Linked DNA regions of Homo sapiens. The protein of the gene in region 1 purifies or fractionates together with the protein of each later gene. This does not show direct contact. Each region holds a gene or a part of one and is shown on either strand. Other genes may lie near its edges. The genes, in order: ZNF428, CIAO2A, PIP4K2A and MACROH2A1.

Evidence for each region.
Region 2: the proteins of ZNF428 (region 1) and CIAO2A purify together in Homo sapiens (co-immunoprecipitation; one large-scale study listed by IntAct). This does not show direct contact.
Region 3: the proteins of ZNF428 (region 1) and PIP4K2A purify together in Homo sapiens (affinity purification with mass spectrometry; 2 studies listed by BioGRID and IntAct, with this or other methods). This does not show direct contact.
Region 4: the proteins of ZNF428 (region 1) and MACROH2A1 purify together in Homo sapiens (affinity purification with mass spectrometry; one large-scale study listed by BioGRID and IntAct). This does not show direct contact.

Annotation. Positions count from the first base shown.
Region 1 is NC_000019.10:43,614,773-43,622,670, forward strand, and holds the start of ZNF428 (zinc finger protein 428), read right to left. Parts: upstream 4,858-7,898; 5' UTR 4,786-4,857; exon of another isoform or gene 4,289-4,785; intron 4,227-4,288; exon of another isoform or gene 4,061-4,226; intron 1-4,060.
Region 2 is NC_000015.10:64,072,365-64,079,420, forward strand, and holds the end of CIAO2A (cytosolic iron-sulfur assembly component 2A), read right to left. Parts: intron 3,174-7,056; coding exon 3,128-3,173; exon of another isoform or gene 665-3,127; coding exon 567-664; 3' UTR 201-566; downstream 1-200. UniProt on the Homo sapiens protein: Component of the cytosolic iron-sulfur protein assembly (CIA) complex, a multiprotein complex that mediates the incorporation of iron-sulfur cluster into extramitochondrial Fe/S proteins.
Region 3 is NC_000010.11:22,537,174-22,545,342, reverse strand, and holds part of PIP4K2A (phosphatidylinositol 5-phosphate 4-kinase type-2 alpha), read left to right. Parts: intron 1-3,295; coding exon 3,296-3,539; intron 3,540-5,268; coding exon 5,269-5,372; intron 5,373-8,061; coding exon 8,062-8,142; 3' UTR 8,143-8,169. UniProt on the Homo sapiens protein: Catalyzes the phosphorylation of phosphatidylinositol 5-phosphate (PtdIns5P) on the fourth hydroxyl of the myo-inositol ring, to form phosphatidylinositol 4,5-bisphosphate (PtdIns(4,5)P2). Has both ATP- and GTP-dependent kinase activities.
Region 4 is NC_000005.10:135,389,886-135,398,054, reverse strand, and holds part of MACROH2A1 (core histone macro-H2A.1), read left to right. Parts: intron 1-8,169. UniProt on the Homo sapiens protein: Variant histone H2A which replaces conventional H2A in a subset of nucleosomes where it represses transcription. Nucleosomes wrap and compact DNA into chromatin, limiting DNA accessibility to the cellular machineries which require DNA as a template.

The DNA.
Region 1 (7,898 bases):
TTTTTAGTAGAGATGGGGCTTCACCATGTTGGCCAGGCTGGGCTCGAACTCCTGACCTCAGGTGATCCACATGCCTCAACCTCGCAAAGTGCTGGGATTATAGGCATGAGCCACCGCACCCGTCCCCCTCTCTAGGTCTTAATTTCCGCATGTGGGCAACAAGGCTGCCTTCTGGTTCTTATTCAGTGGGGTAGGGAGAGGTGACACTCCAAATATTCAACAGTGGGGACTGGTGTGGGCACCAATCAGAACTGAGAGTGGAGCGGGACGGATACCAGGCCTTAACCCTTTAGTTGCTGGACCATGGGGAGGTCTGGGGTTGGGGAAGTGTTATGGGGAAAAAAAACCCTCAAACTGTGTTTTTCCTCTACTCTCACACTATCACAACAATCATCAACACAGAATTCTGTGACCAAATGTGTGGGGCTTTTTCCCCACACACTACACAGCAGACAACAGCTAGGTGTCCCCTCCGATTCCATTCCAACGCTGTCCCCACACCCAGCTAATTTTTGTATTTTTGGAAGAGACAGGGTTTCACCATGTTGCCCAGAGCTCAAGCAATCTGCCCACTTCAGCCCTCCAAAGTGCTGGGATTACAGGCGTGAGCCACCACACCCGACTTTTTTAAAAAAATAAAAATAAGGCCGGGCGCAGTGACCCATGCCTGTAATCCCAGCACTTTGGGAGGCCGAGGTGGGCAGATCACCTGAGCTCAGGAGTTTGACACCAGCCTAGGCAACATGGCAAACTTGTCTCTAAAAAAAAAAAAAAAATTACAAAAGTTAGCCGGTGTGGTGGCATGTGCTTATAGTCCCAGCTACCTGAGAGGCTGAGGCAGGAGGATAAATTGAGCCTGGAAGGTCAAGGCTGCAGTGAGCCGTGACCTTGCCACTGCACTCAAGCCTGGATGACCCATCTTACAAAAAAAAAATTTTTGCTGGAGCTGCTCACAGAACTCAAGGAAATGCTTACTTAGATTTACTGGTTTATTATAGAGGATATTGCAAAGAACAAAGATGAAGAGATGTGTAGGGCAAGGTATAAGGGAAGGGGCAGGGAGCTTCACGCCCTCCCTGGGGTGCTACCCTACAGGAACCCTCAGGTGGTTAGCTATGCGGAAGCTCTCCAAACCCAGTCCTCTTGGGTTTTTACGGAGGCTTTAAGACAGCAGCATTGGGCATGGACTTCTCTGAAAAGTGTCTTAAGACCAACAATCAAGAAGGTGGGGAAGATTAGAGTCTTGCCCTGGGGCAGGAAATGGAGGGCAGGAGGAGGTCAGAGAGATTCTGTTTCTTCAGACCTGCCCCAGGCCTAAGGTACACAACATTATAACAAGAGACTGTAACAAAGGCTGTAGGAGTTACCAGCCAGGAACTGTGGATGAAAACCAATATATTTATATATATAATACCACAAGGGGGGTCCAAAGTGGCAGTTAGGGACAGGGAGTACTTGTGTAGCAGTGACACACCAACCCATCTGGAAGTATTTTAATATTTAAACAATTGGTATGGCTATACTAGTTTGTGATTATCAGCCTTAGTTCTGTATCAATTGGCAAGATAGTGTCTAGGTTTGCCACACTCTAGCTGTGTAGCACCAAGCAAAGAACTTAACTTCTCTAGCCTGTTTCCTTCTCTGGAAGAAAGGGGCTTCCAGGCCTTAACTCACGTACTCCCCATAACTAGACTGGGAATTATCTCCTTTGTACAGATGAGGAAACAGACACAGAGGTGATAAGTGAGTAGCCCAAGGTCACCATCTGGTAAGTGGATGAACTAGGATTGGAAGCCAGACCTTTCATAAAATGATTTCTCAGCTCAAAAGGTTTTTCTGAAGATTCAGTAGGCTCACTGATAGAAATTGCTGGTGTGTGGCTGGTATTCCATCAAGAGTGGCCATTACTACTCCCACCCCTGCCCCTCTATAAACTCCAGATGTTCCAGACCTCTCATCTCTCCCTGTGCACACAAGGCCTTTTCACATCTGTGGGTCTTAGTACACCCACTGTTGCTGTCAAGAATGTCCTCCTCCTCCTTTTTTTTTTTTTTTTTGAGATGGAGTCTCACTTTGTTGCCCAGGCTGGAGTACAGTAGCGCGATCTCAGCTCACTGCAACCTCTACCCTGCATCAGCCTCCCTAGTAGCTGGGATTACAGGCAGCCACCACCACCATGCCCGGCTAATTTTTTGGTATTTTTAGTAGAGACAGGGTTTCATTATGTCAGCCAGGCTGGTCTCAAACTCCTGACCTCAGGTGATCCATTTACCTTGGCCTCCCAGAGTGCTGGGATTACAGGCAAGAGCCACCACGCCCAGCCCTCCTTCCCCCTTTTTGGCCTGGAGAACTCCTTTTCACCCTTCAAAGCCCACCACAAACATAAGAACCTCTATACTTCTTGCCCGCTGAAATACTGCCTCTGCCAGGAAGCCTTCTGTGACTTCTCTCTCTCCCTCTTCACCAACGGACCGCCCCCGCCCCCCACCAACCCCACCACACACACACACCACTACTGTCTTCCACTGTACTCCCTGACAGTAGAGAACCAAGCAGGGCCAGTTGATGCAGCCTCAGCTATATCTCTTACATGCCAAGGCCCATGCACTGGGGATACAATGGTGGAAAATACATGGTCCCTTCAAAGTCTGGATGTCAAGTTTAATGCTGGGGACTAAAGAGAAAAGCTTCAGATTGAAACCTGGAGGTGGCTGGGGCAAAGGACCATTGGCATCATTGGCAGGGCAACTTCCTAAAGAAAGCACCTAAATCTTGGCTTTTAAAGACAGATTTCATAATTGGCAGAGGAGAATTCTAATGATACCCTATTGCCTACAGGGCCCCATCTAATTTGGGAATTCTACTTTATACCAAGATAAGATTGCCAGATTTAGCAAATAAAAACAGAAGACATCCAATTAATTTTTTTGTTTGTTTTTGGGTTTTTGTTGCGGAGATGGTGTCTCACTATGTTGCGAAGGCTGCTGTCAAATTCCTGGCTCAAACAATCCTCCTGCCTTGGCCTCCCACTTCCCAAAGTGCTGGGATTACAGGCATGAGCTACCACACCTGGCCCTTATTTATTTATTTATTTAATTTTCTTTTTTGGGACGGAGTGTCACTCTGTCGCCCAGGTTGGAGCGCAGTAGCGCGATCTCGGCTCACTGCAACCTCTGCCTCCTGGGTTCAAGCGATTATCCTGCCCCAGCCTCCCAAGTAGCTGGGACTACAGGCGCGTGCCACCATGCCCGGCTTTTTTTTTTTTTTTTTTTTTTTTTTTGAGACGGAGTCTTGCTCTGTCGCCCAGGCTGGAGTGCAGTGGCACGATCTCGGCTCACTGCAAGCTCCGCCTCCTGGGTTCACGCCATTCTCCTGCCTCAGCCTTCCGAGTAGCTGGGACTACAGGCGCCTGCCACCACGCCCGACTATTTTTTGTATTTTTAGTAGAGATGGGGTTTCACCGTGTTAGCCAGGATGATCTCGATCTCCTGACCTCGTGATCCACCCGCCTCGGCCTCCCAAAGTGCTGGGATTACAGGCGTGAGCCACCGCGCCCAGCCTACTTATTTATATTTTTTAAGAGACAGGGTCTCGCTCAGTTGCCCAGGCTGGAGTGCAGTAGGGTGATCTGTAGGAAAGGGGCTTCCAGGCCTTAACTCATGTACTCCCCCATAACCAGGTTGGGAGGTTAGCTCACTGTAACCTCAAACTCCTGTGCTCAAGGTACCCTACTAGCCCCTAGGAGAGCAGCTGGGACTACAGGTATGCGCCACCATGCCAGGCTTAATTTTTACTTTTTTTTTTTTTTTTTTTTTTTGTAGAGACGGGGGTCTCACTATATTGCCCAGGCTGGTCTTGAACTCCTGGTCTCAAGCGATCCTCCTGCCTTAGCCTCCCAAAGTATTGGTATCACTGCAACTAGCCCAAAGAATTAATATAGCTATGTTCCATGTGATATTTGGGACATACTTTTCTAAAAGGTTGTATCTTTTGGATATAATTGTTTATCTGAAATTCAAATTTAACTAGACATTGTATATTTTATACGGCAACCACACACCTGGGACAATCAAGACATTCCCTGAAGTTACCAGGAGACAATGCCCATCAGCCTACACTTTTCCAAGCCCACGTCACACAAGGCCCCTTCCAGAGTATTCCAGACGTCAGGTAGGGCCATCCCTTGGTTCACAAGTCCCACTCCTACCACGCCTATGGCAGCCAAACTGAAAGGCAAACACAGTGCTGGAGACCCCACAATGCCCTGGGCCTATAGCAGTCAATTCCCAAGATGCCCCGCGTGAACACAATAGGCACCCGTTCCAATGCTCGAGCAAAGAGACCAGGGCAAAACCTTCCACTACGGGACAATAACGGCCAGTTCCCACAATTCGTTGTGGCAGTTCTTCCCAGGATGCCTTAGGCCTATAGCGACCACCTTCCCAGACTCCCCGTGTGGAAGCGCTCCAAGCCTCCAGGACGGTCAGCGGCAGGTGTGGGATAAAAGGAACCGGTCTCGACAAGGATCTGGGACACTCTTTCCCAGGATGCACCAGGCCTACGACTAGCGGACCGACTCCCACAGCGCTTCAAGGCGGAGCGCTCGGTTCTCCCAGGATGCCCCAGGGCGGCACAAACGCGTAGGGGGAGAAAAAGAAGCCCTCGGGTCACCACGGCCCCAGACCGCCGGCTCCCCGGTGACGGGAGTCGTCGCTCCCATCATGCAGCGGGGCCGTAGCGCCCGCTTCCCGGCATGCCTCGCGCACCCCTGCCCGGGACACTCACCGGCGCCGGCGGCCCCCGCTCCGGCTCTGCGGCGGCGGCTGCACGCCCAGCCTCTGCGCCTGCGTCGCAAGTAGGGTAGGACAGCGCGCAGGGGGCGTGAAGAGCCTAGGGCGCTTGCGCGGCGAGACGGACTAGTCCTGTAGCGCTGTGGGAAGAGGGGCTATGCGCGTCGGGCCGTCGACGAGACCCGCGCGGGGGGCGCCGTGCTTTGCCCCTCGCTGCCTGGGTTTACTTGGTACAGCCCGCGGCCCAAAGGAACAAGAAGCTGAAGGGTTCGCGCGTGCGTGTGCGGGGCAGGAACGCGCCTTACAAAACTGGGATGCGCTGGGGGTGGAGGGCGCTAGTTCGGACTGGATCCTGGGCCCGAGGCCTGCTTATTTGCATAATCCTAGCGCGGGACAATGAAAGGCCTCCCGCACTGGAAGGAGTGATTTGCATATTCCCCGGAGGGGCCTTACTCCAGAGCGCAGTGATTAGCATATGGCGGGGGCAACCTGAGCAAAGCGCATGCGCGCAGGGACTGCAGACTGACGCGAAGTGGGTAGCCTTGTCTTCGTAGGGGATCAGTTTGCATCCTGAGAGAGGGCACGAGGGCCAGGACCCCTCCCAACCAGGATAAAGGTTTATTGATCTCCTAGGTGTCAGGCCCCATGCTGGCGGATTCTGTGGTTTCTGCAGTGAACCATACTCCTGTACTCACGGCACCCCAGTCGAAGGAGATACGCACCTAATTAGACAACTACTACCCAGAAGGTCAGACCTGGAGTGAGGAACACAGGGGGCTGTGGGAGCCTAAGAGGCGCTTGCCCCGGCCTCTGGTTCTAGAAAGACTTCCAGGAGGTGGTGATCCTTAAGCCAAGTACGAATAGGAGCCAACTAGAATGGGAATGGGTCTGGCAGAATGAACTGCAAGCGCCAAGGCCCAGAGGCCAAAAAAAAAAAAAAAAAAATAGAAGCGCATGTTTTGATTGAGGAAGCAAGAGCAGCTTAGTATGCCTAGAACCTAACTGGAGACGGGAAATGGTTCTATAGACGATGTTAGAGTTCAACTATGGCTACATTCCAGTCTTCCTGTAAGTGACTTTGTCACATTCTGGCTTAAAACTCCCCCAAAGGGATCCCATTAGGAAAAAAAAAAAATCCAAAAATCTTTATCATGGCCTCAGGGCTATACACCTGGTCTGGCCGTGCTTATCTTTCTGACCCCACCTACTTCCTCCTCCCTCCATTTCTGTCCAGCTCCACCTTACCCCAAACTCTTTACCAGCTCGGGCCTCTGCTCTTGCCGTTCCCTCCGCCTGAAAATGCTTTTCCCTCTGACCTTTGAATACCTACTCTTGTGCTCACCATTCATATCTTGGTACAGATGTCAATCTGAGAGGCTTTTCCTGATCTCTCCATAATAGCACTTACACATTTGACTGGAGTTATGGATAAATCGGGATTGGCCATGAGTTGGTGGTGGTTGTAACTGGCATGAAGAGTACATGGGGCTGGGCGCGGTGGCTCACGCCCGTAATCCCAGCACTTTGGGAGGCCGAGGCTGGTGTATCACCTGAGGTCAGGAGCTTGAGACCAGCCTGGGCAACATGGTGAAACCCTGCCTCTATTAAAACTACAAAAATTAGCCAGGGGTTATGGGGGGTGCCTGTAATCCTTGCTACTTGGGAGGCTGAGGCACGAAGATCACTTGAACCCTGGAGGCAGAGGTTGCATTGAGTCGAGATTGAGCCACTGCACTCCAGCCTGGGCCACCCAGCGAGACTCTGGGTCTCGCCTGTAATCCCAGCACTTTGGGAGGCCGAGGCGGGCGGATCACGTCAGAAGATCGAGACCATCCTGGCCATCCTAGACCATTTCTACTAAAAATACAAAAAAAAAAAAAAAAAAATTAGCCGGGCGTGGTGGCAGGCGCCTGTAGTCCCAGCTACTCGGGAGGCTGAGGCAGGAGAATGGCGTGAACACGGGAGGCGGAGCTTGCAGTGATCCGAGATGGCGCTACTGCACTCCAGCCTGGGCGACAGAGCGAGACTTGGTCTCAAAAAAAAGAGTACATGGGACGTTATTGTCCTGTCTACTCCTGTGGGTTTGAAGTTTTCCATAATGACAATGGCATACCACATCACCATACTCTGCATTTATATTAATAGTTCTTATCACAATCTGAACTTTCTTTGCTTCCTTGTTTTGAGTGTTTTCCTCATGAAAGCTTCATGAGGGTAAGAATGGAGTCGCCCTTTTTCACTTTGGGTTCTCAATGCTTAGAGCAGGATCAGATTTCAGATTAGTGTAGCGCTGTCTTTAACACTTAACATTTGCCTGTTTTATTCACCATGGACTCTAGAACTTTGAGCAGCACCTGGCACATCGTAAGAGGTTATTTTTTAAAGTTAGAATAATACATCTAAAATGTACATGAATGAATGAGAGGCCTGGGATGCCAGACTAAAGAGCTTTGACTTGGTCTAAAGGTGATGGGGAGCTAGGCAAAGGTTTTGAGAGTTTAACTTTAATTCAAAGTTCCCTTGGAGACTAATGTCTGGGGTAGGGGGAAGCCAGGGTAAGGGTCCGGGCCATGGAATGGGGTAGCTCAGTCGCTATCAAAAAGACAAGACTGTGACTATTTGGCTGAAGAAATGGCCAAACCCAGGTTTCTGGGGAGGTCGAGGTACCCTCAGTGAGGTCAGGACCTTCTCCTGGCCTATACTGTCCACCAGCAACCATCACACTCCTCCCTCCCCTCTCCCTTAGTTCCCCTCCCAATGGTACAGCCCTTGACAGCAGGACAGACACACAGCCACCCCAAACACTTGTTCTCTCCTCAGTTTAATGGTGGTTAGTGAGATTGCCAAACCCCCTCCCCATTCCCCTCCCCACCCCGTACAAAATGTGTGTGTGGTTTTTTGTTTTTTGTTTTTTGTTTTTTAACAAGAAAAAGGGGGCAAAAGCCAGGAATGGGGAGAGGGGGGTGCAATCTGATATTTTCATACAGACTTTTGATTTTTTAATATATTATATATAAAACCATGAAGACCACGAATCCTCCCCAAACTCCTTTCCCCCTCCCCGGGGGGCCTGGAGGAGAGATGGGGAAGGCCCCCCCAGGAGTGGGT
Region 2 (7,056 bases), on another chromosome or scaffold:
CTTCTCCACATTTGTTCCTTATCTATGAAAGGGTCCAGGACTCTCCTTGGAAGGAAGGAAGGCCCAATCTTAAGGGTTCCTTTTGGTTCTCAGATCTCTGATTCTACAAAATAATCAGCAAAAATAAAGCTTTGAAGATATCCTTTAGGAGTTGACATTTACACTGGAATTTACAATTCAATAAAAACAGTGAGTCATTATAAGAATCATCTGCTTATTTATTTTACAGAGTAATGATTTAAATTGAGTACATTTGGGCACAGTAGATATTTGACACGAAAAATAGTTGTATCAGAATGAGCATCAGAAAAATAGCAACTCATCTTGCACATAATAACTAGAAAATATTATTCTGTCTGATCATTTAAGTGTTACAAATCCTGAGAATGTTATACATTGAACAAATTAGGTACTACCTTATAATTAAATCTCGCTTGGAAAGAATCCTTTAAAAAATACTCTGAGGTACAAATCACCTATGTATTAAACATGAGTCTCTGACATTATACAAAGAGTTTAAACAAATATATCAAACAATTACAGGCCAGTGGCTCTTAAAACAGCTATCAGTCAGGTTCAAGGACACACTGTTCCACAATTTCCCGTAAGTTGGGGTTTTCCATTGCAGCTGCCACTCGCTCTTTGTCATTTATCTGCTTATTGACTGAAAAATACACAGACAAAAGTTAGCAGAAGAACTGTGTCAATATACAGCACCAGACAGTATTTTTATTAGCCTGCTGAAACAAAAACTTTAACTCCTTGAGAACTTAAACCTGTTTTTGGCTAATTACTCATAATGTAATTTCCCATCTAGAAGGCAGACTTAAGAGAAAAATATCTACTAGAATTCTACTACTTAACCACATCTATTTTTTTCTTTCCAGTCTTTGTCCATACACATATTTTTATACAGTTACATTCAGAGTAAATATAATTTTGAAAATTGCTATTTTTTCCCCCATAAGCCTATATTTTAAACTACAGGGTTATTTAACATGGTAAAAGTCTTAAGTGTTCTAAAGTAATTATGAAGACTATGCTACAATGAATACCTTTAAACATATAGCCTTCTTTTTGGAAATATTCTCAAAAATGGGATTATTTTTAAGAGTATGAATATTTTTATGGTGTGATTCATATCATTGATTTACTTCCTAAAATTACTCACCAGTTTATATTGTCAACACCAATACATGAGCTATCAGTTTGGCAACAATACCTGGTATTATTATCATTGTTATTATTATTCTTTGAGACAGGGTCCTGCTCTGTCATCCAGGCTGGAGTGCAGTGGTGCAATCATAGCTCACTGTAACCTCCAACTCCTGGGCTCAAGAGATCCTCCTACCTCAGCCTCCCACAGGCATGAACCACCACACCTGGCTAATTTTCAAATATTTTCGTAGAGACAGGGTCTCACCATGTTGCCCAGGCTAGTCTTGAAATCCTGGCCTCAAACTCCTTCCCTCAAGGCATTCTCTCGCCTTGGCCTCCCAAAGTGCTAGGGTTACAGGTGTGAACCACCATGCCCGGGCAATAGCTGGTATTATTTAATAAAAACAAATACACATATATACATACATAAAACAGGAGATGGAAAACGGCTCAATATTATTGTCATAATTTGCATTTCCTTGACTAATAGGAAAATAGAACATTTTCCATGTGCATATATTAGTTCTTCTTGCATGAATTTCCTGTTCATGTCTCTATTAATCTACTAGATCTTTTTTTAAAATTAGTTTGAATGGATCTTCATATAATAAAGGTATTGGCCCATTATGTTTTCTGTAATTAGCTAACAGCATTCTTAATAGAAGAGTTCAAAAGAGAGACGACTATATTCTTAATGTGGATTGAGTTTTCTGGGCTGCCGCTGAAATGTCTCATGTAGAAGACACACAAACATACACATATTCCTGCGAAAATACTTTCAATTTGGTTTCTTCCTACTACAATGTAGGCTCCACAAAGGCAGGAATGTATCTCAAAGGCTGAACTGTACCCACACATAGAAGGCACTTAATAAATACTTACTAAATGAAAAACAAGACTCATAAGACTTAATACTATTGCTGCTGTAAAATCCTATCATTCAAGGAATTTCAAAACGATAACCTGAGTGGATTTAGGGTACCTAAACTCTTATTTTTCTAAATTACAGGTAGAAGCCCTCAGCTCGTGGGGTTTAAAGAAATTCAGCCCACAAAGAGTATAATAATCTACATGTCTAGAACTATAAATAGGGCATGGTTTTTAACAGTTTTCATGACAGTACCTAAAAAGTTTCCTGGATAGGCTGTTCCTCTGGAAGCAGCAGGCTTCCCTCTCTATAGCTCTCTTTTATGTAGGAGATTTTGTGTGTCTCTCTCCAGCCCTGTGTATGCCTTTCTGAGTCTTCTTGGTATCTATCTCACTGTTGCTCTTCCTCTATTAGCTCTTTCTTCCATTCCTCTGCTATTTTTTCCCACCTTCTCAATTTACTTAGTGATGAAACTTAAGTACAACATGCCTTTTAAATGTATTTCTCATTATTTGCACTCTATCATTTGTAGATTAAAAACATTAAAATTATGTTTTTAATGTAACACAGGGATCATACAGAACATTTTGTTTTTTGCTTTTCCCAAACCCCACTTCTGCTATTTTTAAGTAGCTACTGATTGATTTCTCTCTGTAGGCCAGAGGTCCTCTATATAAAAAAGGTTCCCCACTCCCATTCTAATATACTAACCCAGAGAGACAGCACCTACCCCAAGATTCACTAAAGCTCTACTTGCTAGACCTTCAATTTCAAGTACACAGCTCTCTATCCTGTCACCAAAGAAAAGAAGCCTACTTAGAGCTCATAAGTCAAGGTCCCCAGCACTGGATATTCTTTACAGATGTGTAGCCACTGGCCTAAACCAGTCAACATCCGTGGGCTCTAGTGCACTCGGAGTCCACTGCAAAAATTACTTCTTTGAAATGCCTAGGTTTCCTCACCTAGGAAGGAAGAGCCAATAACCAATTGTGCACTTTTTTGAAAGTAACCCAGTAGATTCTTGGCTGGCAGAAGAATCCAGTATCCAAGATAAAATACTATCTGAAGTTGTTTTTCAATTATGTTTCAACATTCACTTACTGTCTTCTTCTGTTGAGTGGGTTCCTTCAGAAATGTAGATTTCCAACTGGAAAGTGGGAAAAAAAGTAAAAGAAAAAACATTAATGCATTCTAAGATAAGAGAGTGAAGTGGAATGTACAGTAAATTCAAACATCTAGGGATGAGTGCCCAAATCCTGTTTCTTTTTTTTTTTTTTTGAGATGGAGTCTCACCCTGTTGCCCAGGCTGGAGTGCAGTGGCATGATCTCGGCTCACTGCAACCTCCGCCTCCTGGGTTCAAGCAATTCTCCTACCTCAGCCTCCCAATAGCTGGAATTACAGGCAGACGCCACCACACCCAGCTAAGTTTTGTATTATTATTTTTTTTTTTTAGTAGAGATGGGGTTTCGCCATGTTGGCCAGACTGGTCTCAAACTCCTGACCTCAGGTGATCCGCCTCGGCTTCCCAAAGTGTTGGGATTACAGGCGTGAGCCACTGCGCCCAGCGCCCCCCAAATCCTGTTTCTAACATCAGAGACATAGGGACAAATCCCCCACATCCTTCTCTAAAAAAAAAAAGGACTGAAATGAGTAGGATTTTTTATTTTGTTCACCTGGAAAAGGCCTGCAGGTGGTATTTCCATTAATTTTTTTATGAATACACAAAAATATCATTTTACACAAATGAGATCTCATATGTGTGGTTTTACTTAAGAATATCTCTTTTCTGCACTCTACTTCTTCCCAACTCGGTATCTAAACTTCCTCCTGCCCTGCTACTGACTCAGGAAATCTACAATAACAATCTAGTGTGGTTTCTTCCATATTCTTCTCTTTACCCACATAATCTTACACAGATTTTACACACACACACACCCACATATCAGGGTTGGAAGTTTCTTCACATTGCTTGTTTTACAAAAATGGGATCACAATATAGTTTTCAGCATCCTTCTTTTCTCATTCATTATTATCATGCTAAATTTATTCTCAAGTATAATACTGGTTAAGCTATCCCTCCTGGCCCTGCTGCACCTATAGACATGAGCTACCCTCCAAGACCCAGAGCTTTTAAGACAACCTACAAAATTATTGCAAATCCTGTGGTAAAGAGAGTATGCTGTAATAAAGACGTCTACTTTCCAGAGAACACTGGAACATATGAACTAATTTTTATTTACTTATTTACTACGGAGATAAACATTTCTCATGAGTGAGAAAAATCATAACTTATTATAGTTAAAAGGGACCTTAAAGGTCATCTAGTCCAATCTTTTTTTTTTTTTTTTTTTTGAGACAGGTCTTACTCTGTCGCCTAGGCTGGAGTGCAGTGGCGCGATCATGTCTCACTACAGCCTCGACTTCCTGGGCTCAGGTGATCCTCCCACCTCAGCTCCCACACTCCCACCCCTCTCCTCCCTCGTCTCTATTTTTTTGTAGAGACCGCGTATCGCCATATTGCCCAAGCTGGTCTTGAATTCCTGAGGTTAAGTGATCCGCCCATCTAGGCCTCCCAAAGTACAGAGATTATAGGCGTGAGCCACTGCACCTGGCCCCAATTTTTTTTAAAAAACAAAACAAGCCGGGCGTGGTGGCTCATGCCTGTAATCCCAGCAATTTGGGAGGCCGAGGCAGGCGGATCACGAGGTCAGGAGATCGAGACCATCCTGGCTAACACAGTAAAACCCCAACTCTACTAAAAATACAAAAAATTAGCCGGGCGTGTATTACCAGCTACTCAGGAGGCTGAGGCAGGAGAATCCCTTGAACCCGGGAGGTGGAGGTTACAGTGAGCTGAGACTGCGCCACTGCACTCCAGCCTGGGTGACAGAGCGAGACTCCGTCTCAACAAAACAAAACAAAACAAAACAAAACACCTTTCTCCTAGTAGCAAAACACTCTTATTCTAGACCTCAAAGCAACAGGTATAGAATCACTCTATACTGACTTACTTCAGTTTAAAATTACACAGGACTCATTATTCTAAAAGTGATAAAGGGGAAAAGGCAGCATTTATGCAGCTATTCCTATATGAACTATACTTCAGGGTAACCAATTGATGAGGGGAGCTGTTACCAATAATGGGACAAACTGAATTTATAGGCCTCTGATGTGATGCAATGAGAACACATTTATTCAGTATTCTTGCCAAAAATGCACAAACTGAATCTAACCAGGAAACATCAGAAAACTCAATTTGAGGGACAATCTATAAAATATCTGGTTTACATTCTTCAAAAATATCAAGATCATGAAATAAAGGCTAAGGAACTACTCTAAATTAAATGAGACTAAAGAGACATGGCAACTAATGCAATGTATGATGGGGGAGAGGAGCAGAGCCAGGAGGAGGGACCGCCATGAAGGATGTTACCCATTGGAATACGTGCTGTAGATGAGATGACAGTACTGTATCAATGTCCTGGTTTAGAAATTTATACTGTGGTAATGTAAGAGAATGTCCTTGTTTTCAGGAAATACATCCTATAGTATTTAGAGTAAGGGGGCATTACAAATGCACTCAAACATTTCCAGAAAATATGTGTATGTGTGTGTACATATATAGAGAGAAATTAATGATAAACCAAATGTGGCAAAATGTTAACAATTAGTGAATCTGAATCTGGGTGAAGGATATATGGAATTTCTTTGTACTATTCTTCACTATTTTATTTCTTTTCTTTCATTATTTTCATTTCAAATAAAAAGTTAAACATTGTAATTAAAACAGTTAAAAATGAAAAATAAAATTTACAGGGCATCATAAACCACTAGTATAATAATTTATTAATTTACTCAATTTAAGACGTATTTATTGAGCTCCAAATATGTATAAGATCATAGCAGGAACACAGAGATGTATCATATATGAATCTTGACTTCAAGAAGCTGACAGCTAGCTGGTCAGGCATGGTGGCTCATGCCTGTGATCCCAGCACTTTGGGAGGCTAAGGCGGGTGTATCACCTGAAGTCAGGAGTTCAAGACCAAACTGGCCAACATGGCAAAACCCTGTCTCTACTAAAAATACAAAAATTTAGCTGGGTGTGGTGGTATGCGCCTGTAATCCCAGCTATTTGGGAGGCTGAGGCAGGATAATCGCTTGAACCCAGGAGTCAGAGGCTGCACTGGGCCGAGATCGCACCACTGCCCTCCAGCCTGGGCGACAGAGCGAGATTCCATCGCAAACAAAAAAAAAAAAAAAAGAAAAGAGAGAGAAGTTGACAGTCCAGGAGGGAAGATGAAAAACAAACAGAACACAAGTTAGAAAAGGACACTCTCTACATCAGAAGACAAAGAAAGAGCCACGGGGCTGGGTGCAGTGGCTCACGCCTGTAATCCGAAACACTTTGGGAAACCAAGGCGGGAGGACTGCTTGAGCCCAGGAGTTCACGAACAGCTTGGGCAACATAGTGAGACTCTGTCACTACAAAAAATAAAATTAGCTGGGCATGGTGGCATATACCTGTGGTTCCAGCTACTTGGGAGGGTAAGGAGGGAGGCTCACTTGAGCCTGGGAGATCAAAGGTTCAGTGAGCTGTAATCATACCACTATATTCCAGCTTGGGCAACAGGGTGAGACCCTGTCTTTAAAAAAAACAAAAAGAAAGAGCCACGGCAATTCAAAAAAAGAAATAGCTTTAGTTACAGAAATCAGGACTAGTAGTATGGAAAGGTGAATACAAAAAATAAAAAAAAAAATTTAAAAGATAAATAAAAATTCATCTTAAAAAGAAGAAAGAAATCAGGACTGATATCATGGAAAATAAAATAGTATTTCACTGGGCCTTAAAACGTGGGTAGGATTTGGCCAGGCCCAGTGGTTCATGCCTATAATCCCAACACTTTGAGAGGCCAAGGCAAGATGATCACTTGAGCCCAGGAGTTTGAGACTAGCTTGGGCAACAAAGAGAGACCTCATCTCTACCAAAAATTAAGAAAAAATTAGCCAGGCATGGCAGTGCACGCCT
Region 3 (8,169 bases), on another chromosome or scaffold:
TTGAAGGTCAACCAGTAGACCTTCCTGTTAAGGTAATCGTCTTAAATGGTCACCTTGCGCTTCCTTTGCAGAGCTGTTGCCTCATGCAGTCTCAGACAAAAGTTTTCTGTTGTTGCTTTGTTGTTTGTATTTGGCTTTGGTAGTTACTTCCTGCTGGAAGCAGGTTGGGGAGAATTAGGGAGAGTTGGGACGGATAGGGAAGAAGTAACAAGCATCCCATTCACTTGTCCAACAAGTGCCGAATACTTTCCCGAGCCCTCTGCCTGCCGGGATTCGGGAATGCAGTGAAAGCCAAAACCTTAGAGCCCCGTTTGGGGCTGCCTTGCTTGGGAAAGAGAGAAGTCGCTCAAATACTCCAACAAAATGAATGTGCAGCGAGGCCCCGTGTCACTGGGGAGGAGTGTGCGGTGCCCTAAACACCCAGACTCTGGGGCTGTGCTGCCCTGTGCAGTGCCCCGCAGCTGAGACCTGAAGGCACAGGAGGAAGTACCTGCCCCCAGAGAAGCCCAGGAAGTGGGCAGAGCAGAGCTCAAGTGGGCCCCAGAAGTGGATGGGGCCAAGCTCTCCAGGCCTCCTGGGCCATGTGAGTTTTGTTTGTGCCCTGTGAGAAACGCGGCACTATGGAAATGTGTTAAGCAGAACAGGATGGGATCAGGTTCACATTTTGAAAACTTCTGCCCTTTGCAGAGGACTGGAGGGGTGGTTGAGGCACCACTCAGCCTTTACCACTTCACAGGGACCTTCCAAGCACCCAGAGGGAGCAGGTGTGGGCAGAAGGGGGGCCTTTTCCCTGTCACCTCTCAAGCCGAGCAGGGCCTGGCCTGGCTCCAGAGAGGCTTCCAGGTGTAGAGAGAGAGGCCAGGGAAGCCGTAGATCTAGGGAGCAGAGCCAGGCACCGTGCTAGGCTTGGGAGGGGCAGCAGAGGTGGCCAAGGAGACCCTGACCCAGTCCTCCAGCAGCCCAGAGGCCTTGGAACAACAGGGCAGGGAGAAGTGGGCCCACCATAAGCACCCCCACCCCCACCATACCCCTCAAGCATTGGAGAAGACAACTGGGTACTTACAATGCAGTATTTTTCAAATAGGCTTCTGAAACCCCAGGCCCACAGGTCATTCTGACGGGAAAGCAGGTTCCATGATCACAGCAGTGCCATGTGTGCTGCTGCTGGCCACCTAACCCTCCGGAGACCCACAGCGCAGAGTCATGTGTGGAGGGCCTCCGATGCCAGCTGATTTTAACTCGTTACCTTCCTCCTAGGGTTGCGAAGAAAAGGAGAGGGGAAAGCTGCTTTAAGGCAGCCTCCAGAGGTAGCTGATAGAGAGCAGAGAGTACAGGCTCAGAACAGGCCCTGAATTCACCCCTCCTTGGATCTGAATCCTTGCACTCTCGTCCAGCTGCTGAGCCTGGCTGCTGTCTCACACGGAGAGCCTGCCCCCTGCCTTGGATCTTGTCACCTGTCCCTATACCCCGGAGTGCCCAGTTCTCTTCCACATCCACAGGCCCATGTATAGCGGAGCTGGTACCCGAGACCCAGCTCCCTGGCTGGCTTCACCGTGCGGGTGGAGGACTCAAGTGAGCCTTCCACCACTGTAGATTTCTCCCCGCAGCCGCCCCCACAAACATGATCCCAGCCAGGTGATCTCGGCCAGGTGCACCTCACAGCCTGGCAGCTGCCGAGATTCTAGGGGAGGATGCGCAGTCTCTGACTGCTGGAAAGGAATCTGGCAGAGAGAGGTGCAAGTGGAAAGTCAGTTCTCATGTTTACTGTAATGGGGGAGTTTGGGGAAAGACCAGGGGGGATGAGCAGTGGCTTCCCCTCTTCTCTGGGACCCAGAAAGCTGAACGCAGGAGCCCCATGCTGTTTCCACGAGGGGTTTGCCTCTATTTTTAAACAAACAGGTTTCTCCCACTTTGCTTAAATATTTGAGTGTAAGATTTGTGTGATTTCTCTTTTTTGAGCTCAAAACAATTGGGGAAGATATAGCTGGCCCTGGGGGATTCCTGTTGGGAAGGCAGCGAAGTGGGAGCTCTGGCCAGTTTGCTGGGCTGAGCGGGGTGCTGGCTGATGGAGAATTGCAGGCACCAGGAACCAGCTGGAGAGTGGGATAGCCCTGTGCCCAGGGGTCCTCTCCTCGTCTGTAAGGAATCGGGGCTTCTCATTCAGTTTCGAGACAGAACTCCTTCCCAGCAGGCTGAGGAGAAATGACTCTGCGGGGCTTAGCAAATTGATTTCATTTTTAGCCAGAACTTCAAGACCTGTGATTTTATCTGTTTGCCCTTTGCATGAGGACATCTGCTTCCTAAATTCTATCAGCATAGCCCAGAGGCTGCTCAGCCACTCTGCATTCCCCAGCGAGGTGGCACTGAGTCCTTCCAGAGCCAGGACCGTGAACCTTCCTGGACCCTGAGCCCAAGGTCGGAGTGGAACAGGATCCTGTGCAGAGCCAGCCAGCCACGGGGTCAGGGAGCCAGTTGGGTCCAGCCCGCAGATGGGCTGCCACTGTTTGCACTCAGCACAACCATCCACATCTTATGGCAACATTGGAACGTTGTGCTGAAGGTCTCAAATAAGAAAAGGGAAACAAAGAGAAATCGTGATCTGAAAAGTCAAAGAACTGGGCAGACAGGAGTAGCCAAACACACAGAGCTGGGTCTTGCCCCCACATTATGTTCTAGCCACGGCTGGAGGAGGAGAGGGAGGACAGGAATCCTGGATGTGTGGTGCTTCGTGGAAAGCACACGTGGAAAGCACCTTGTTGACCTGGACAGGACTGCATTACTCACCAGATGTGGACACAGTGCCTTTACTTTTACTTATTTACAACAGCGTAACAATCGCCTCCACAGAGCATGCTGAATTCCAGGGTGCTTTCCTGAACTACCACCAGAGACTCCGCTGGAAGCTACTTGGGAGATGCCTGGGTTTCCCCATTAGCCAGTCTTAATCATTGGGAGGAACTTGCTCTCTCTCCCAGTCTCTCTCCGCATCTCTTACTGGTCATGCTCCTTGCTATCTGGTGAAATCCAGCCACCCTGTGATAGATACACACCTCTCCGCATCCAGTGTGGCATTCCAGGGTAAACAGCCTGAGCTCTGAGCCAGCCTGAAGTGTGAGGCTACATTTTAGATAGAGAAACAGCCCAGGAGTGTAAGAGCATCGTGAAGGAGGCACCCGGCGCCTCTGCTGCCCCACCCCACAGCCTTCCCTCTGGGTGTCACCCGAGCTTGTCTCCTTTAAATGTTGGCTTTTATGTTTAAGGTGTGGCTGACTCACCCTGTTGCCTCTGTCCCCAGTTTCTGGCCCAGCTGAAGCTCATGGACTACAGTCTGCTGGTGGGAATTCATGATGTGGAGAGAGCCGAACAGGAGGAAGTGGAGTGTGAGGAGAACGATGGGGAGGAGGAGGGCGAGAGCGATGGCACCCACCCGGTGGGAACCCCCCCAGATAGCCCCGGGAATACACTGAACAGCTCACCACCCCTGGCTCCCGGGGAGTTCGATCCGAACATCGACGTCTATGGAATTAAGTGCCATGAAAGTAAGTTTGATTACTGTGGACCCTTTTTGCATGTGAAGTGGTTTGACTTTGGCCTTGTTATCTACCAGTAAGCACTACCCCAGTTATGAGGGTGCTGCCCGGCAGCACTCATCCTCCAAACTCCAAAGAAATGGATTTGGGGACAAGAGTATGTTAAAGCTAACCGTGATCTCAGTGCTGAAACATAAGGCGATCGGACCTTTGAATTCTGTGATGTTGAGGGAATACAGCAAAACCACGAACTATACTATACATGTACAACACACCTGTACATATGCACATACACACTGGCATACAACGTACGTGCACACACAACACAACATGCATGTACATATGCACACATACATGTTCACAAATAACATCAGAAATGCTTTAAAATATTAATACGTTTTTGCCTAGTTATCTTTTTTATCTAAGTCAAAAGCATCATGAGTCTAAGCTAGGCACATGCATGTGATCCTCTGTGACCCTTAGCTTGTCCTCTTGTCATTACCAACAGCCCTCTCCCTCTCAGGGGTGTGAAGGGTGTGTGAAGATGGGCCCTGTGGGTGGGGTGGGAATCTGATTTGCTGCTGAGTCTGGCTCTGCTGTCCTCCCCCATGGAAGGGCCTATGGCCCTCTTCCCTAGAGTCAGATAAATCTTAATCCACCGTATCCAGGTGATTGGGTGCACCAGTTATTTGAATATTACATCCTACCTTAGCAACTTATCCGTGACAATACCAAAATATTTTTGTGATAGGATAAAAACAGCTTCTTGGTTTTTGAATAATAAAAACTGTGGCTCATCAGTTGTTTTTTAATCTCAAATGGCATATCAGCTGAGGATCTGAGTTCTGTTTTGTTCTGTTTTGCTCACCAAAATGTTTTCTTCAACACAGAAAATTAGATAGTCAAATGTACTTTTCTTACTGTTCATATTTTTGGAAATGGATAGAAAACAGACACGGGCCGGGCGCAGTGGTTCATGCCTGTAATCCCAGCACTTTGGGAGGCCGCGGCAGGCAGATCACCTGAGGTCATGAGTTTGAGACCAGCCTGACCTACATGGAGAAACCCCATCTCTACTAAAAATATGAAATTAGCTGGGCATAGTGATGCATGCCTGTAATCCCGGCTACTCGGCAGGCTGAGGCAGGAGTCACTTGAACTCGGGAGGTGGAGGTTGCTGTGAGCCAAGATCGCACCATTGCACTCCAGCCTGGGCAACAAGAACAAAACTCTGTCTCAAAAAAAGAAAATAGACATTGGAGTGGATGTATGCCTTTATCCAGTTCTGATACTGTATCCAGTGAGAATTATGAACAGTTCTACCATTTGATGTAAAGGATTAGTGTACATAATTAGTTCTGTTTTATAGGGTATTTTTAAATAGCATATTTCTTCACACCAAAGCAATACACAATTATTAAAGAAAATGCAAATTAAAAAAAAAAAAAGACTCCGTTCCACCGTTGGATCTCCACTGTTGATACCCTGGTGTGATGATGTTTTTAGTTGTTAGGGTTGTTTCTTTTTAAATTGCAGGGGGACTGGGTCAGAGAGGCAAGCTGTGTGTTTAGTCAGGATCCGCAGGGGTGGTGTAGAGTTTGTCTCTGGACTCCTTCCATCCGCGTTCCATTGAATCCCCTCCCTCCAGGCTCACTTCTCCCTCCCTCCCTCCCTCAGCAGCAATGCTGGCACTGGTGTTGTCACATGTCCCACAGTCATTGCTCTCCTGTCTCTGCAGACTCGCCTAGGAAGGAGGTGTACTTCATGGCAATTATTGACATCCTTACTCATTATGATGCAAAAAAGAAAGCTGCCCATGCTGCAAAAACTGTTAAACATGGCGTGAGTATCTCCATTTTGTTTCCTTCTCTCTTTCTCTCCCTCTCTCTCTCTCTCTCTCCCTCTCTCTCTCTCTCTCTCTCTCTCCTGGCTCCTCTGTGTGACCTGTAACTCAGGGATCACTCCTTTCTGCCACTGAGCTGCTTTCTACTGAGCCATTCAAAGCCCTTTAGTGACGCTTGTTCCCTGGGGGCAAGTCATGTTCTGAGCGTAAGATACAGAACCCACAAACGCTTACTGCTCACTGCTGCTCTTACCACAGCTCCCTGTGGCTTCCAGCGAAGTCACTTAAACATGAACATCTCTTCTTTTTACACATGGCGGACACTAACAGGCATGCGCATCACTAGGATGTTACACAAATTCTTTTTTGTTTGAAAAATGTTCCAGAGATAAAAGTGCAAAAGAAGATAATGAAGTGTTCTAATATGAAATATTCAAAACTGAAGCATGATTGTCTGCTTAAGACACTTCCCAAGTATACAGGATTAATATTTCTTTTCTCACAGTGAGTTGTATTTTTTCTACTACAGAAATCTCTTGAGTGCAAAATCAAAGTTGCATAATATTACTCACCGTTAATGTTGCTTGATGGGAGTTTTCACTGCTCTAGCCATATGTTAAGCTATTTTATCCCCCATGAGAAGCCTATGAAAGAGATAGTAGTGTACCTGCTTTTGTCAGTTGGAGAAACTGAGGAAAATAGCTTCAGGAGTAACTTGCCAGGGCCTCATAGTAGCAAGTGGCAGAGATGAGATTCCTCCCCCGGACCCAGCCCCCTCCTGGCTCTGTGTTCATGCTCATCCCCTTGCCCTGCCTGCAAACACCTCCTGCCTGGCTGAACTTTACAGCTCGCCAAGTTTCAGGCTTGTATTGCAGGGTGCCATCTTTGTTTTGCAGAGGTCCTGAAAGCCATAGAGCCCACCCCACACAGATGAATGTATTCCCTGGTTTGTTGGCCCTGGAAGAAGAGGTGCTTCCCACAGACTGTGTAGAACTAATGAAGATTCACCAGAACCAAAAACTCACTTGAAACCTCTTCTTTTCTATTTTAAAATAGAAATCAGCCTAACAAACACAGTATTCTATTTGCCAAAGAAATATTTCAGTCACATTGTCGATAGCTATGGTATTCCTGCTGTGTGCAGAGCACAGACTGGGACCTCACCGCCCCCGAGCACGTCAGTAAGCAAGTGTGCCTGGTGGCTTCCCCCCAACAGAAATTTTTGAGTACTCTTTTTAAACAAACATCCGCACCAGGTGCACCACCCCCATTCCGTCATTTCTGAGGCCAGTTCAGGAGGGTGAGGGAGGGGTCTTCAGAAGACTCCATGGTCATTCTGATGCTCACCTCTGGTTGAAAACCATGGAGTGTGGCAAAGAGAGAACTGGCGAGGAATCCTCGTTTGACCCTTCCCACTTGTATGACCTCAAGGGGACACTTTTGGAGCTCCTGTTTTTTCACCTCATACAGAAATCCTACTGCCTTGCTGATGGGGTTTTGCCAGAGATACAAGAGTTGTCTGGACAAATGCTTTGTAAATGTCTGTTCCCATATTATACATCCTGTGAAATTGGAGTGTATCCTAGCCAATATGGCTCCATGTTCATCTCTCCTATCCTAGCCAATATGGCTCCATGTTCATCTCCCCATAAGCCACAAGTTCGCCTCCATAGTGTGCCACACGGCATAAAATCACAGGTAGTTTGCAAGAAGAAAACATTACTGTCAGCAAAGGAACGCTGTGTTAAGCTGCTGTGGGGGACCATTCTCTCTGCATTCAAGCCTGGGCTCCTCCATGCAGCCGAGGCCTGGAAATATTACAAGTTCCCCGGTGAACATGGGTGTCTAAAAACAGCACATGCTCACTTAGCAAAACTCCGTGCTTGCCCTTTGCAGCTCAGGAAACTGGCCAGTGAGTGACTCCCTTGAGTGTGCTGGCCTGCACCCTGCATCTCATCATGGAAAAATCCCTCACCGTGCTTCTGCAGGGGGCCAGGCTTGCTTGCTCTCTGCAGGGCTCAGAAAGGGGAACAGTGGCACCCCTGTGTGCTGCTGCAGAGGGAAGTCAGCTCCTTCCCCCGTGGGCAAGATGGAGCCAGCAGTGTTGTGCCTCACCTGGTTACGGTGCAGGGAATGGGCTGGGGGCAGCTGTCCCAGAACCTGTGGCTGCTGCTGTTGCCCCTCATGTTTGAGCACTGAGCTGGGGGCCTCTGTCCAGAAACGAAGGGGTCCTGAAGAAATCATGCGGTTTTAAGTCATCGTCATTAAGGTTTCCCTTTCGCCAAATGTTGATGTCATTCTCAAGGTGGCTCCAGTCTGCCTTCTTGAAAAGTATAACATAAGTATTGTTTCCGTGACTTCTGAACAATTCCACTCTTTGATAGTAACATCCCAAACGTGGCCTGTTTGATTTTTTTGTGAGTTGCAACAGCCCCGGTGTGTGTGGTAGCATCTGGTGCTCCTGTCGCCCTTTGTCTCATTTGCAGACACAGATTTGTAAGAACCTTGCTTATTCAACCATGAGCGCCAAGATATTTTGAGTGATGTTTTTCAGAGCAGAGACTGCATGGATTTGAAAATTGCTTGCTGTATATTCAGTTGCCATTGGAAATAGCTGTAGATATTGAGTAATAATTTGGGGAAATCATAAACACTATGTCAATATTTCCTTTTTTAAAAACTGCCCAGGCTGGCGCGGAGATCTCCACCGTGAACCCAGAACAGTATTCAAAGCGCTTTTTGGACTTTATTGGCCACATCTTGACGTAACCTCCTGCGCAGCCTCGGACAGACATG
Region 4 (8,169 bases), on another chromosome or scaffold:
TTACAATGACTATAAAGGCCTTGTAAGATTTTAATGACCCAGTAAACAGCACATAAGAATAGACAATTAGAGGGGGCACTCCTGCTAGCTTCCCTCTTTTCTTCCACCTTTGTGGTTTGAGGTTTTACCGTTAAAGTAGGGGGTAAGGGAAGTGTTTTGTTCCAAAGCTCCCTGCTCCAGGGAGTCGGGCATTTTTTAACAGTCTTAGGTTTGAATGGGAGACTCGAGTTGTAAATTAGGTGGAATTCACCTACTGCAGGCCACCTTTAGGCTACTAGCCTGTTGTCAGAGGTGTTAACTCTGAAATGGACACCTCTTGCCTGCAACTGGAATTAATACCCATTGTACACATTTAACTAGAGTTGGGCAGCAGCATCTCAGTCTTGCACAAGAGACTCTCTGATGAGGATGAGTATGTTTTCAAACTTATTTTTTCTTAAACACAACAAAACTCTTGAAAGACTTCAAATTCTTCCCCCTTCTAGTTTTACAAGGAGAGAGAAATCTTTCCAGTCTGTTCTTTGGCTTCGATCTGTCACCATTGTTAATGCTGATCCCTAGATAAGGCATTAAGAGGGTTGTCTAAATGAAAATTGTTTGAGGCAGGCCTTTAGAAGGAGGCATAATTTAACTCACATTTTATTAAACTTTAAGAATTGTCTGGAACTTCACATGTGACATTCTAGTATACAACCATGCCACTGGTTTAGTTTTTACCAAATGGGCCAGTGTCAGGGAGTGACACATCTCCATCTGATGTTTCTTCTGGTCCCTGAGAGAGGCGAACTTGAGGAGCGCCTCGCATTCCTTCCCCACTGAGAAGCTCAGAGGGCATGTGTTCTGGGACCTGCCTTCAGAGCTAATGCGGCCCCAAGTCACCTAAAGGAGATTTATTTAAATAAAAGCATAAACTGAAAACCTCAAGCCGAAGAACCCAACAAGACTCTATATGTGTTGTTCATCAGAACTGCAACAGCCTCTGGTTTTATTTGAGTGTCCCCAAGGATTTGTGACAGCCTTTTCAGAGCCCCATTCCTAGAACATGGGCTGGGAAGGGGCAGGAGTGATTGGGGCCCAGATCTCTGTGGGTCCTTCCCATATTCTGTAGGTTTAGAGGTCTTTTGGGCCCTGCCTCAGTGCTTACAAGTGAGCCTGAGTGAGTCAACTCTTCATTCCAAAGAGTTGTATAGCTTGTTTGCTTGGACCAAACCTGTCAGGTCAGTGTCTCAGAGTCTTTCCATAAAGATTTCCTGAGAATCAGCTCCTGTTCAGGCACTGGGGACACAGCCGTGATTAAGAAATGCCTAGCCCCTACCTTGGGGGAGCTGACTTTGGGAGAAGGCAGGCAAGTAGCTGTTGTAAAATCAGTGCAAAAGGCCCCACGTAGCCCCCCAGCAGGTACAGTAACCTAGCCAGGAGTGAGCCCTTATCTGGCTTGGAAAGGTCAAGCAGGAGATGGCTGGGCAAAGGAGGGCAGATGGGGACAAGTGTTTGAGGCCTGGGGAACCCCATGTGTGCATCTTAGAAGAAAAGAACAGAGGTCATGTGGGGAACTGCCAGAGGCTCGGGATGGCTGAGTCCTGGTGCGGAGTCAGGTGAGGCTTCAGGGAGGGACAAACAGGACAAATCACAAAGGATTCTGGTCAGACCCACACTTTATCCTAAGAGCAACTGAAGGGTTTTGAGCAGGAGAGAGACAGGATCAGGTGTTCTTTTTATTCTTATTGGGAACACGTCTACTCGGCAAATAATGAGTGGATTCTACATGCTAAGCCTTATCAGAGTCCTGTCCTGTGAAGCCCACACTTTAACTTTTCTCTAAATAGCCTTCCGTGAGACTGGTTATCTTAAGAGTTTGGCACAACCTTTAAAAGAGAGAGGAGTATGTAGAAAAGTTTTTTTGTAAAGCAGGCAGGCAGTAACTTGCTGTTAAAATGTAGCAAGCTGCACAGTTCCTTCAGTGCATCTCGGGAAGCGCATCACCGAATGGGTTTGCAGAGGTGAAATTTCAATCCCAGACTAGCTTCCCCAAAACTGTTTCTTGCTTGTGGTAAATGACATTTGTGTTTGTGTTTTGTTTCTTCCTGCCACTGAAAACATAACAGGAGTAAGACACATCTGCTGGAACAAAATGCATGGTTTATGATTTATTTACTATCTCAGTTGGTCTGTCTCTTCTGTTTGCAGTCCCCTAGTTCACTGAGAGTGGACTGTAGGTTCTTTAATCATCTGGCTCACTTTTTGATATGGTGTTTTATGAATGGAGAGAGATATTTTTCCTGATTGGCTAGAATACTAGAACAGGTCTCTGATCCAAGCCAATCAGAGTGCAGCTTGTGAACCCCAGCTCTGTGAGCAATGGTTGTCTAGTATATCCACATGCCTCTGGGGACATGACAGCGGGTGACACCGTTAATCATTTGGTGTGATAGGAGTAAACGGAAGAGGGAAGAGAATGCTGTAAACAGGATTAGTGTCTTGTCCTTCAGAATTAAGTTTCTCAGGTTGGCCTTTGTGATTGGAGTTGATGGGAAGGTGACAAATGCATGTGGATATGCGGGCATTTATCCAGCTGCCAGAATGGATGGCGTGGTTCTTCCTCATCAGCAGTTATTTGAGCACTGATAGCTCAGACTCCTCTATCCTCAGGGGCTGGAGATAGGGCTCTTTGACTAGCAACTCCCCAGCAGTTCTAATCAATATTGCATGGGATCAATAGGCATGTATTCATTGCTTAGATAATAAAATACTTCATGATTGACTATTCCAGCGGTTTCATGAGTGCCCTGATTGTTTAAGGGGTTTCTGTGCTGTAGCTTAAACAGGAGTCAATCTCTTATAGATGTGAGGAAGGTTAAGTATTTTCCTGCAGTCTATGGTACTGAGCCAGAGGCAGGAGGAGAGGTCACTGGAACCATAGAACTGTCACAGAGTCATAAGGCCTCAGTGTGCCTTATGCCCAGCTATCAGGGCAATTGGAGTGTTCCTTTCCTGAGAATCCCCAAGGTAGCTCTACAAGCTCCCTGAATTTTGAGTGTCTGGGCTCCTATAGGGATTTTGCCAGGTGTATGTACATGAATGTCCAAGAGAAGGTCTCTGATTGGTGTCCCACTAGCCATAGCTCCCAGTCCTGTGGGCTTTGGAAATGCTGCCCTCTCCTTTCTCCCTATCCACTGTCAGTGCCAACTAATCAGCTACCTTGTAGCTGGCATGTGCATGTCTACCGGGTGCCAGGCAGGGTGGTGGGTGCTTGGAGATACAGTGGTGAGTAGAGCAAATTGGTTCGTTTCATCAAGACAGACAGGTAAATAGGCAATGATGATACCATGCACTGAGTGCTAAGAATGGGATAGCTGGTTTCAGAACTTATATGTAAATGGGATCTAGAGTGACTGGCAATCATGATGGAAGGAAGGGCTGGAAACTGCATTTGCAGAGTACTGTATATAAGACTAAGAAAAATAATTGAGTATATTAAAGAATAGGGGCAGCCTGAGGGAGATTGTGAGGCACTTTTAGCTGGGCCCTGGGTCTGCAGCTGCCACATCCATTGAGGGAACTGGGAGGGAGAAATTCATCCCGGTGGATCTCTGGTTGTTGCAAATAGAGAGATGTGTTGGAGGTCAACAGGGCCTGTGCACAAGGTTGGAGTCTGGACATGCAGCTGCCCCAAACTAGACTGTGACTGACAGAAGGCATGGCCATGGCAGGAATGCAGAAGAGGGAGCACATTGATGGATCATTGCCAGGGAAGGTATTGGGACCAGTAGGCAGGATTACTCCAGACAAAGGGCTAGAGAGATGTTCAGACTGAGCATGCTGGGTGTGCTGAAGGTGCCAGTGGGAATGAAGGTGGTTTGCAGTGCAGGGAGCAGCCTGTTAGGATGCCTGCTGGGAAGGGATAGGAGGGTGTGGCAGGGCCTCCATGGCACTTTGGTTCTTTGCCCCTACTGCCCCTCCTAGTAGTACACAGCTTGTTGTTCTCATGTCCACCTTATTCATGGGGTCTACATAGCCAGCCTTCTAATTAGTCCTGTGCTAAAAGAACTGACTGCGTTGCTCCAGTCGCATCTCGATTGCTGAGGGGCCTGTGGTCAGACTCTGTTGCTTCTCACTGTAGCCTGACTCATCTCTCCATCCAGCTCCTCTATAAAAGTTTGTCTTTGGGTAAGCTTTGAGGTTTTATAAACAAAGTTAATGTTTATTGTGATTTATAATTGGAAGAGTTGCAGAAATAAAGACCACAGAGATCCCTTCAAGATCAATCACAGAACCTTCATTTTCTAGGCCAATAACAGCCAAAAGGGCAGTCAAGCTAATGTGCAATGATGAACAGACACAGTTGCCTGAGGACCTATCATTGTTTTCAAAGCATGCAGAGCCATGAGTGAAGCCTCCTGGTTTACTGAAGGAAGGAAGAACACATCTTTGTCAAGTTTGACCAGATAGTATAGCTGTTCTCCTGTGACCAGCTTCACTGCCCTGCAGAGGTGATGAGTGCTTAGGAAGCTGCTTTGTCTATGATGTAGGGCTGTCTGTTTCTCAAACAAGGCTGGATGCAGAACATGGGTCAAACAGGGCCCAACAGGTTTTGGGTGGTAACTCATTCTGGGGTTAGGGTCAGCGTTCAGATTGGTTTATCATGTGACAGAGACTGGCTGTTTCCTCTTTTCTTCTGAGTAAATAGCCAGAGTACATTTCCCAACCTCTCTTGCAATTAGTTGTGGGCATGTGACTAAGTTCTAGTTGATGGATCATGGTCAGAAGTGATGTGCCCCATTTGCAGGCCTGGCCCCTTAAAACCCTCATAGGTTATTATCCATGGTCTTTTTCTTTCCATGGCAACCCTGGGAATCATGTATTGAAGATGTGAGAGTAACAAGATGGGAGGCATCTGGATCCATGAATCACTATGTGGACAAGAAACACCAGCCAATCATGGAAACCCATTTTGGATTTTTCGGGAGTGAGAAATAAGTTGTAGAGACTTATCTGTTACAGCAGCTAGCAATGTCTTCAGCGCAAATGTCCAAGATCTGTTCTGCAAGAAGATGGCCTTTTTTCATCTTATTCACATTATTGTTTTTGTTAACTACTGAGAACTTGCCCAGTGAGTGAGTATCAGGCCCTTACATGGATGCTTTGATTCACTTCTGCCACCAACTCTTTGAGGCCCTTACTAGCATCATCTCCACTTGAAAGATAAGAAAATAGGTTCAGAGGGGTTAAATCACTTGCTCAAAAATGCACAGCCAGTAAGCGGCAGAGCCATGGTTATAATCAGGTCAGTCTGGCTTTGGACTTCTAGTTTTTAATTATAATGCTTAATTGCCATTGGCCTCACAGTCACTCTCCCCCTTGTCATGGGTGCCTGACTGGAGCTACCCACACCTGCATAAACCTCTGAAGAGCAGGATGGACCTGGCACATTCATGGGTTTATCTGGAGACTGCACAACTATGAGTTGGTTTTCAAAAGGGTGTTTTGAAAACCACCACACATTGCTGGATGTCATAAGGCTTCATGGCTTAGTCAGAATTCTTTCATAGCTGTGGCTGCAGCTTGGGGAACTATAGTTAGAAGTGCAGGAAGAACATGGGGAGGGATAAAGTACAGAATCTCTGCAAGACAACCCCATTGGTGGGGAGACAGACTTGAGGCCGCTTTATTGGACAGGAGCCTGACTCAGAATGAGAAGTGAAGATGTTCTTCTGCCAGCAGGGTGGCACTGGAGGAGCTGTGATATTTCAGACCTTTCTTGGGATGAGTTGACTACAGTGCTTCACATCGAATGGCTTGCAGTTCAGTCAAGTTGGAGAGGCATGTGCTGGGATATATATACTATGGGAACATGGAGCAGTGAGCAATTCCAGGCTGTGGTCATGTCCACAAAGCCTCCATGGCAGAGGGAGGCTGTGAGTGTCAGTTCAGCAAGTTGACAAGAGGACAAAGGGCATTCCAGGCAGGAGAACTGCGTGTTCAGAGACATCCTTAACACAGTGTGACAGGCTCAAGAAGTCAGGGGTGGCCTGAGGCATGTGAGCCAGGGCTGGGGTGACAGGAAGCAGTGCCACCAAAAGTAGCTGAAGTATGCTGTTTGTGGCTAGCTCAGAAGCTCAGGCTGACAGGGAATCATCAGAGTAGGCAGAGCTGCTTCTGGTGTCCATGGATGAAGACTGGTGCGGTTGAGAATAGGTCAGAAGTAAAGAGGCTGAACCAACGCAGGGAGGGTGATGAGAAGAGGCCTGAGAGGTTCTGCAGGCGGTTCAGCAGAGCTTGGCTAATGCTTGGGTGCTGTGGGGTGGACAGAGAAGTCTGGGCCAGGTTCACTGCTGTTTGGCTAGTTTGGTGCATGACATTGCCACTGATGAGGCTGAGAGACCCAGAGGAGTTCAAGGCACCCATGGGACTTGTAAGTGGGCCCTTGCCATCAGCAGTCAGAACAGAGCTCTGAGGCTCAGCGGCCAGGTGTTGCACTGGCATAGAGACCTGGGAGTCACTGGCATGTTGATGTAAAGACTCAGCTAGAGTCAGAGGAGGGAAAGACAAGGAGCACCACTTTTAAGGAGTCAGCGTGTCTAGGACCTGCCAGGTCTCTGAGTGCTAACGGATCCTTTCTGGAGGAGACCACTGTCCAGTTCCCACATAGGCAGCCCCAGACATGCCCAGCAGGTCAGCTGGGAAACAAAGCTGAAGTCTGTGCTCTAGTAGGAAAAGGGCTGAGCTGCTGTTAATCATCACTGACCACAGGCCTCCCCTGCTGAAAGGGGGAGACATTCCGATTTAAAAGCTCAGTCCAAAGGCATCAGGTTGTTGGTCTGTGAAACACATTTGTAGTAAAGCAAAAGACTGCTAGGAAACCCAATGACAGCCTTGCCTGAAAACACAGGCACACATACATATACACATATCATTTCCTGCTCAGAGTGAGCACAGGCACCTTTTTGCAAGGAATGTTTTAAAATGGAGTTCATTGCAGCAAGGAAGGGATCCAACTAATTGTTTTGGAAAAACCCAGACCCTTCTGGGTCTCTCTAGCCCTCAGTGAGCAGTTAAGACTGGGTGCTCCTTGACAGGGCGCTCATGACAGAGGCCTTTACTCTTCTAACATCACTCCAGAGCCAGGGCCTCTGCCATCTTACCTCTGTTGGGCCTGTCTACACAGTAGCCCCAGAGTGCCCAGAATTCTGTTTTCTGTCCTCACAGCCATCTCTGTGGCTCATCCCAGATGATTTGAGATGCACCTGGGATTAGAGAGGTGTTAAGTGTGGACCGTGGCATGTCCTGACAATGTCCCTAGTATAGGTTGAGCATCAGAGTAACAGGGACTCCTATCCCTGTGGCCTCCAGTGGTCACAGCATTGACTGCTGGTGCTGGAAGGCCCCAAACACCATGGAGTGTGACGTCAGTTTATCAGTACATGGGAGACCTGCCCAGTTGGTTCAGTGAGCAAACATGTTCATAGGGAAGACTTTAGGGGGCCCCAGAACAGGCCAAGGCCCCTCATATCCCCTCTCCCAGCACCCTGCACTGGCCCTTTGAAGCATGCATTACGTTTATCTTTTAAATGACTAGGGGGTTATTTATTGTCTTTTTCCCCACCAGTTCCACAGGGACCACATCTGCCCAGCATAATACCTGAAGTGAATGCATAAATGAACAGGATGCTCCAAGTAAACATTCGAGACCTTGGATGGTGCTACAGTAGGAATACAGTTAGGGGCACCCCTCCACCCACCTGCAGTCTGATGGGAGAATGGGCACACGTGCATCAATGCTGTGGTGTGCAGCACATGGGGCCCTGAGGATGAAACAGCCAGATCTCAACATTTGGGAGGGCTGGCAGAAGGCAGAGGCAAGTGTGAGAGATAATGGAGGTCCCAGCCAAAGGGAACAGCTACTGCCCAGGCAGGGAGAAAAGAAGTGGAAGGGTATTTGGGGGGAACCTTGTGTGGCTCCCTGTTTGCTAGTTTAGACCACAGGTGGCCCAAGGCAAAGCTGGACATGTGTGCCAGGCCTAGATTTCTAGGGCATTACATGGCAGGCCAAGAGTCCTGGTTCTATCATGAGAATTGTGGCAGCCACAGAAAGCTTTCAGGCCAGGGCCGGGGCATGTTCAGGTGGGTGTGTACCCAGATTGCCCCACCCATGGGGTAGAGGGTGGATTA